Linked DNA regions of Homo sapiens: region 1 is linked to region 2. The links come from fine-mapping of genetic effects on gene expression. A gene starts in region 2. The other region holds a variant in brackets. All regions are shown on one strand. Distances are between the middles of the regions.

Region 1 (2,894 bases), 73 kb after region 2:
GCCCCAGCCAGGGGCACGTTTGTTCCCCAGTGTTTACTGGGGGCACTCCCAGCATGAATGCTGTGCCCATCAGCCAGGTTGGGGCGTCTGGGCCGAGACCTTCAGGGCAGGCTCCCCTTCCTGATCCTGGTGGCCCTGGCTGCACCTGGGCTGACCTGCTTTGCTTTGCAAACCCACCATTCCCCACTGTCTGCAAGCAGCTCCAGGGGATGGTGTAGAAGTGCAGGCTTACTGTGCAGAAGGACAGCAGCAGAGCCATCCCTCGTGGTCTCCTACAGCCCCACATCTGGAAAGACTCCAGCGGCATCGTCAGAAAATTTGCACAGCCCATGCCTGGCCCGGTGAGGGAGGCAGTGTGCCCAGCTCCATCTCAGAGCTCGGTGTGAGAGCAGCATGTCCCGGGGGAGGCCCTGTGCTACGGCGGGCTGGGGATGTTCTTGGCTCTCAAAGCCTTATCTTGAGTTGTCTGGGCTCCAGGAGCAAAAGACACACCCCTGAACAGCAGAGGACAGGGCAGTCAGGGTTGCTGCATTGGCCAGTGCCTCATGTCATGTGACCAGAACTGAGCCCTTCACTAGCTGTTCTTAAATTTTATTTTCCAAAAAATGGCATTTTCCAGGTGCCCCAGTCCTCATTCCTAAGGTCCCACCTCAGTTGGCACCTGTGCGTGTATATGGATACACTTTCCCCCCAGGGCCCTGCCTGGTATGGGCCAGGGCAGCCCATGAACTCTGGGCCTCACCACGAGGTTCTGGGTGAGGCCCTCGTCCCGCCTCAGTGCTGGCCCGAGCTGCCGAGCCAGGGCCGCAGCCCCCGTCTTGCCTCTGTCTGCCGGCTGCTCCCGGGGCCTGATCCTCTGGCCCCCACTGGGCCTGGGCTGCACATGGCAGCTACCTGCTCACTGTCCTCCTCACTCCCTGGCACACAGCTTCAGGGTGGACCAATCACCCAACGTCAGATTCTGAAAGAAAAAGCCCCGGTGAGAAGGGAGGGGGACAGGTGGGTGCATACCCACACCTGCAGCCGCCCAGACAGGCCCTGCTGCTCCCACCACGCGGGATCCAGGCTGGCAGACACTCACCGGCCCGCAGGCTAGGTCTCCCGCCACTTCTTCCCGTTCAGCACCTGCAGCTTCTCCAGGCTCTGGGTCACTAAGCACAGTGCTTGCCCTGAGGAATGATGACCTTGAGCCTCTCCCGGCCAGGCTCAGGAGGGCTGGGTGGTGCTGCCCCGGGGTCTCAGCTGCAGGATGTGACCTGCCCCTCACCCGTTATGGCCCCAGCCCCGAGGTCAGCCTTGGGGTAGAGAGACACAAACCCGCTTTCCCTGGAAAGGGGTCCCTTTGCCTCCCTCGGAAACAAAAGGAGCGCTCAGTCGTCTGGTCCCCGGAGACTCACCCATCTCACGGACACGGTCCTCCAGGGCTCCCGAGAGCTCGGGGAGGCTCATGGCCTGCAGGGACGCTTGCCAGCCCTTGGAGTCTGTGGTGCAGGTGCAGGGACCGAGTTAGCTGGGGGTCTGCGTCCCCACAGGCCCTGCTTTATTCTGAGCCCATGCAACCAGGAGAACCTGCTTGGATCAGAACCTCCCTACCCGCCTGACAGTGTCTAAGCAACCTCCCAAGGCCGAGGCAGGGAAGCCCTGTTGTGCCCTTCCTCCCACAGGCTGAG[CA/C]AACACTACGAGGCCCGGGTCAGCCCGAGAGAAGGCAAAGCTCTGCCGGTGGGGACCCGGGTCTGGGCCCTGGCTGGAGGCTACAGAAGTCACTGGCGGTCTCAGCACAGCACAGCCAGCCAAGGCACAGGGCCTTTCTCGAGTACCTCCTACCCCTGGGGGATAGGCAGTTTTCCTGTCACAGGTGAGGAAGTGGGCTTGGGTCCCCAGGGCCCCCTCTTTTCCTTGGACTCTGGGATCATGTGCACACAGGGACCTGGGAGAGTGGCTGCCGGCCGGAGAACCAGGCCAAGCCCACTGGGTCAAACCTGGCTTCAGGGCTCCCCCACCTTCCCCTCTGCCCAGTGCGGAGTCAGGCCACTGCTCTTACCAGCTGGGGGGACGGCTAGGCCCAGAGTGGCTGCACCAGGGGGCTGGTCCTGCCTCACTCGAGATGACAGCTCAGCTTGACAGGCTCTGCCAGACACAGAAACAAATATTGGTGAGAGCAGAGGCCTGGCCGCTGCAGAGCCCCCACCTCAGACCTTCTAGGGGAGGGAGGGGCTCAGCCCTGTCCTTGCAGCTGGCCCTCATGGGCTGGGCCAGTGCCCCATGAGGCTGCACTAAAGAGCAGGAGGGCGACCGGTGCAGATTCCCGGACCCAACTCCTGCCTGGGTCTGCCTGCAGGAAGGAAGGGCCTGATGAAATGGGGGTGGGGTGGCTCCAGACCCTGAAATCCACCCCTCAGTTACAAAATCAGGAGGAAAGGATGTGTGGGGGCCCAGGGGCCAGGTGGCTGACCACTGGAGACCCAGCCCAGGGCAGCTCAGAGCCACTCACCGCAGCTGGTCCAGGACGAGGGCAGCATCCCGGGCCAGGGCCCACGTCTCCCGCAGCCGGGCCTGGAGGTCCTCGCGGGCGCGGTCCTGCTCCAGCAGGCAGCTCTCCACCACGGCGCGCAGCTCCTGCTCCTGACACACCTGGCCCCGCGTGGCCTCTACCTCCTCGCAGCGCTGCAGGGGGGTGGGGGGCGCGGGGAGGCTGGGAGGTGGCCGGTCAAGCCAGACCCTTGGCCACGGCCCTGTCCTGTGTGTGGGGCCCTCTCCCCACTGCATCCACCTGACCCCTCCACACAGCACCCACCTTTTCTGTCAGAGATGGAGCCAACTCACGGGTGTCACCCTGCCCCCCCATCCCCCACCCAGCCACTCACCTTGTGCAGCTGGATGGCGAGCTCCTGCAT
Region 2 (2,894 bases):
CCCAAAGTGTTAGGATTACAGGTGTGAGCCACTGCGCCCGGCCAACATCAAAGAATTATATGAGAGGATATGTGCAGAGCCCTCAGCATGATGCCTGGCACATAATGCTCAGTAAGTGTGGATCTTGGTTGTGGGGCAGGGAGATTTAATCAGGCTCCTCCAAGACCTGGACCTGCATCATAATCACACAAGTCTCTTGGCTGCCGTACTCATTTGGCTTCCCAAGTTCCCCTGACAAGAGGAAGTCTGAGGCCAGGTGCAGTGGCTCATCTCTAATCCCAACACTTTGGGAGGCCAAGGCAGGCGGATCACTTGAGGACGGGAGTTCAAGACCAGCCTGGCTAACATGGTGAAACCCTGTCTCTACTAAAAATGCAAAAATTGGCTGGGTGTGATGGTGCATGCCTGTAATCCCAGCTACTGGGGAGGCTGAGGCACGAGAATCGCTTGAACACGGGAGGCAAAGGCTGTAGTGAGCTGAGATTGTGCCACTTCTCTCCAGACTGCGCGACAGAACAATTTAAAAAAAAAGAGGAAGACTGGATCCTGGACTGTGGTCTCTGGAAGGGTATAAGAAGCATTTCCACATGGACTGTGGTGAATTGACCATTGGAGACTCAGTCTGCCTTGCCCTCCCTAGCTGCTTTCTTGGTACAGCAGGCTTGACTTGGGAAATCACTCTGCTCAGAATCCAAGTTCCTCAACTGAAAAGTAGGTAAAAAGCGATCTATTTGCAGAGCTGTGTGTGACTCAAAAGCCAGGGAACACCTTGCACACTGCGAGGTTTTCATTCTGAAAGCGATTCTTGCAATCTTGCCCGCAGCGCCATTTCATGCGGCTCTCTCTCCTCTGTGCCTCAGTTTCCCTGTGTGTAAAATGTGGGAGAGTCTACTGCCTTCCGTGGAGGCTGTGAAATTATGTCTTTAAACTAATTGGTCCAGACGTGGGGCCAAAGTATCGGGATTACAGGTGAGCCACTGCACCGGGCCTCAGCCTTGTCAGGGGGCCGGAGGTTGCTTAACCCCCTGGATCCCAGCTTCCTCATCTGTAAAACGGGCTGATGCCTATACAGCTCTCAGAACCACACCTGGTTCAGAAGTCCCCAAATGGTAGTCCTCAAATTCTGGCCAAGGCCAAAGCAGGTGCTTCACTTCTTCCGTGCACACCCTGCAAGTGGGCTCCGGGTGGCAGGTGCAGCTACGCCCTCTGCCGGTCGGGGCGGGAGACAAACTCAGGGGAGTGGGGAGAACCACAGCGACTCAGGGAGCTATTTCAGAGGGGGCAAGTGGAAGGCGCTGGGGCTCCAGGAGAGTCTGTAAGCGAACAGATGAGGAAATGACCAAAGAGTTAATATGTTAGTGCAGCGCTTGGAACGCAGAGGGAAGGACCATTTGCCCTGTGGTTGGTTGGTTCCTTCCCTCTGAATTTAGGTCCATTTGGTTTGTCCCGGAGTGCTTGTCAACCCGTCAGAGGGCCTGGGAACGGAGCATCCTGGGAAAGATAGTTCCCAGACGGGCTTCCCGCGCTGCTTCCCGGCGCCTTCGGCGGCGAGAGGACTCCATTTCCCGACGTGCCCCGGGACCGGGAGGCGGAGGGCCGCCGTGGCGTCGGTCCCCGGGCCGAGCCGGGGGTGGGGGCTCGAGGCGCCTCCGCGGCCGTGGACGAGCGTCCGTGCGGCCTGGTCCGGGCCATGTCCGCGTGAGGACCCCGCCGCTGTCGCCGCTCCCGTTCCGGCCCTGGCCCCTCTGCCCGGCAGCGCCGCGCACCATGGGCTCCATTCTCAGCCGCCGCATCGCGGGGGTGGAGGACATCGACATCCAGGCGAACTCGGCCTATCGCTACCCTCCGAAGTCCGGTGAGCGCCCGGCCCCAGGCGCGGACTGCTAGGCACGCGCTGGAACGCGGACCCGGCGGGCGCGGGGGCGGGGACTCGGGGCGGGGCGCCCTGCTCGGCCCCCTCCGGGCCTCGTTGCTACCCCGAGCCTTCGCGCGGCCCCACGGCCCCGATCCCTAGGCGTGGCTGGGGGCCCCGGAGGAACCTGCCCGAGCCGTACCTGGCGCTGCTACTGCCCGGCTTGGGTGACCTTGGGGCAGTCCCTTCGCCCCGGGCACCTCAGCTCCGTCCTTGCAACAGGGGGGAGCTCCTGGGGGAAACCCCGAGGGCGGGGCGGGGTGCTGAGCGCGGGTCCCGGCGCATCGCTTCTGCCTAGAAAACTCTCATTGTCATCAGATTGACCTCACCGCGGGGGCCGGCTTTCGCTTTCTTTAGTGGCTTGGTGTGAAGGCCGAGCCAGTGGTTTGGGCAATTTCCCTCCCATCAGGACGGAGGCTCTTGGTGTGTGGGTTGGAGGAGTGGGGCTGGGCCCAAGGAGACGATTATAGTTGATCGGGAGGGGCCAGGGTCCTTGCTGAGAGGACCCAGCCGATACTCGGGCCTCTGTGTTATGGCTGAGGGACGTAAGACACCAAGGAGGAAGTGACTGCCAAGATCTCAGCTGGATGGAAGCATAGTTGGGACCGGGACCAGCTGTGGGGCTCCCACGTAGCTTTGTTCCCAGCTCTCTTTCTGCCTCTATTGATGAGTTATGTGTTGACTGGGAGCATCTAGCTCCAAGTCTCACCCTCCATCTCCTCGTGGGGTTCTTTGTGGTGGAAAGGAGAGAAGGAAGAGGAGAGAGAACTTGGGCATCATGGGGACATCTAGATTGGGTCCTCAGATCCTGGCGTCTCATCTGATCTGATGTCTCAGTCTCCTGGGTGTCTCCGGACACCCACAGGCCAGATTTCTCTGAGTGTGGGCCAGGTCCACAAGTGGGGGAGGACTGCTAGACATGCCAGGGCCTGCCTGGGACCCCTTGGGGCCTGGGAACCTGCATTTTCAACCCATTCCCCAT

What was found. PIP is the estimated chance that this variant, and not a neighbour inherited with it, causes the effect. A credible set is the group of variants that fine-mapping cannot tell apart.
Region 1: its variant is the best candidate, but not a certain one, in a credible set for the expression of MGRN1 in whole blood (TOPMed, PIP 0.72).

The regions. Positions count from the first base shown.
Region 1 is chr16:4,695,936-4,698,829 of GRCh38, forward strand. ANKS3 (ankyrin repeat and sterile alpha motif domain containing 3) reads right to left here. Exons shown (of 18, transcript NM_133450.4): 13 at 2,865-2,894; 14 at 2,492-2,664; 15 at 2,042-2,127; 16 at 1,398-1,481; 17 at 1,082-1,169; 18 at 576-961. The coding sequence ends at 1,093. Among named protein-coding and RNA genes, the nearest start is that of NUDT16L1, 3.8 kb to the left of the region's middle. The variant CA/C (reference allele first, on the strand shown) is at 1,671.
Region 2 is chr16:4,623,194-4,626,087 of GRCh38, forward strand. MGRN1 (mahogunin ring finger 1) reads left to right here and starts at 1,633. Exons shown (of 17, transcript NM_015246.4): 1 at 1,633-1,855. The coding sequence starts at 1,768. RefSeq lists enhancers at 1,295-1,404, 1,362-1,892, 1,415-1,709, 1,893-2,422 and silencers at 1,475-1,654, 1,895-2,124.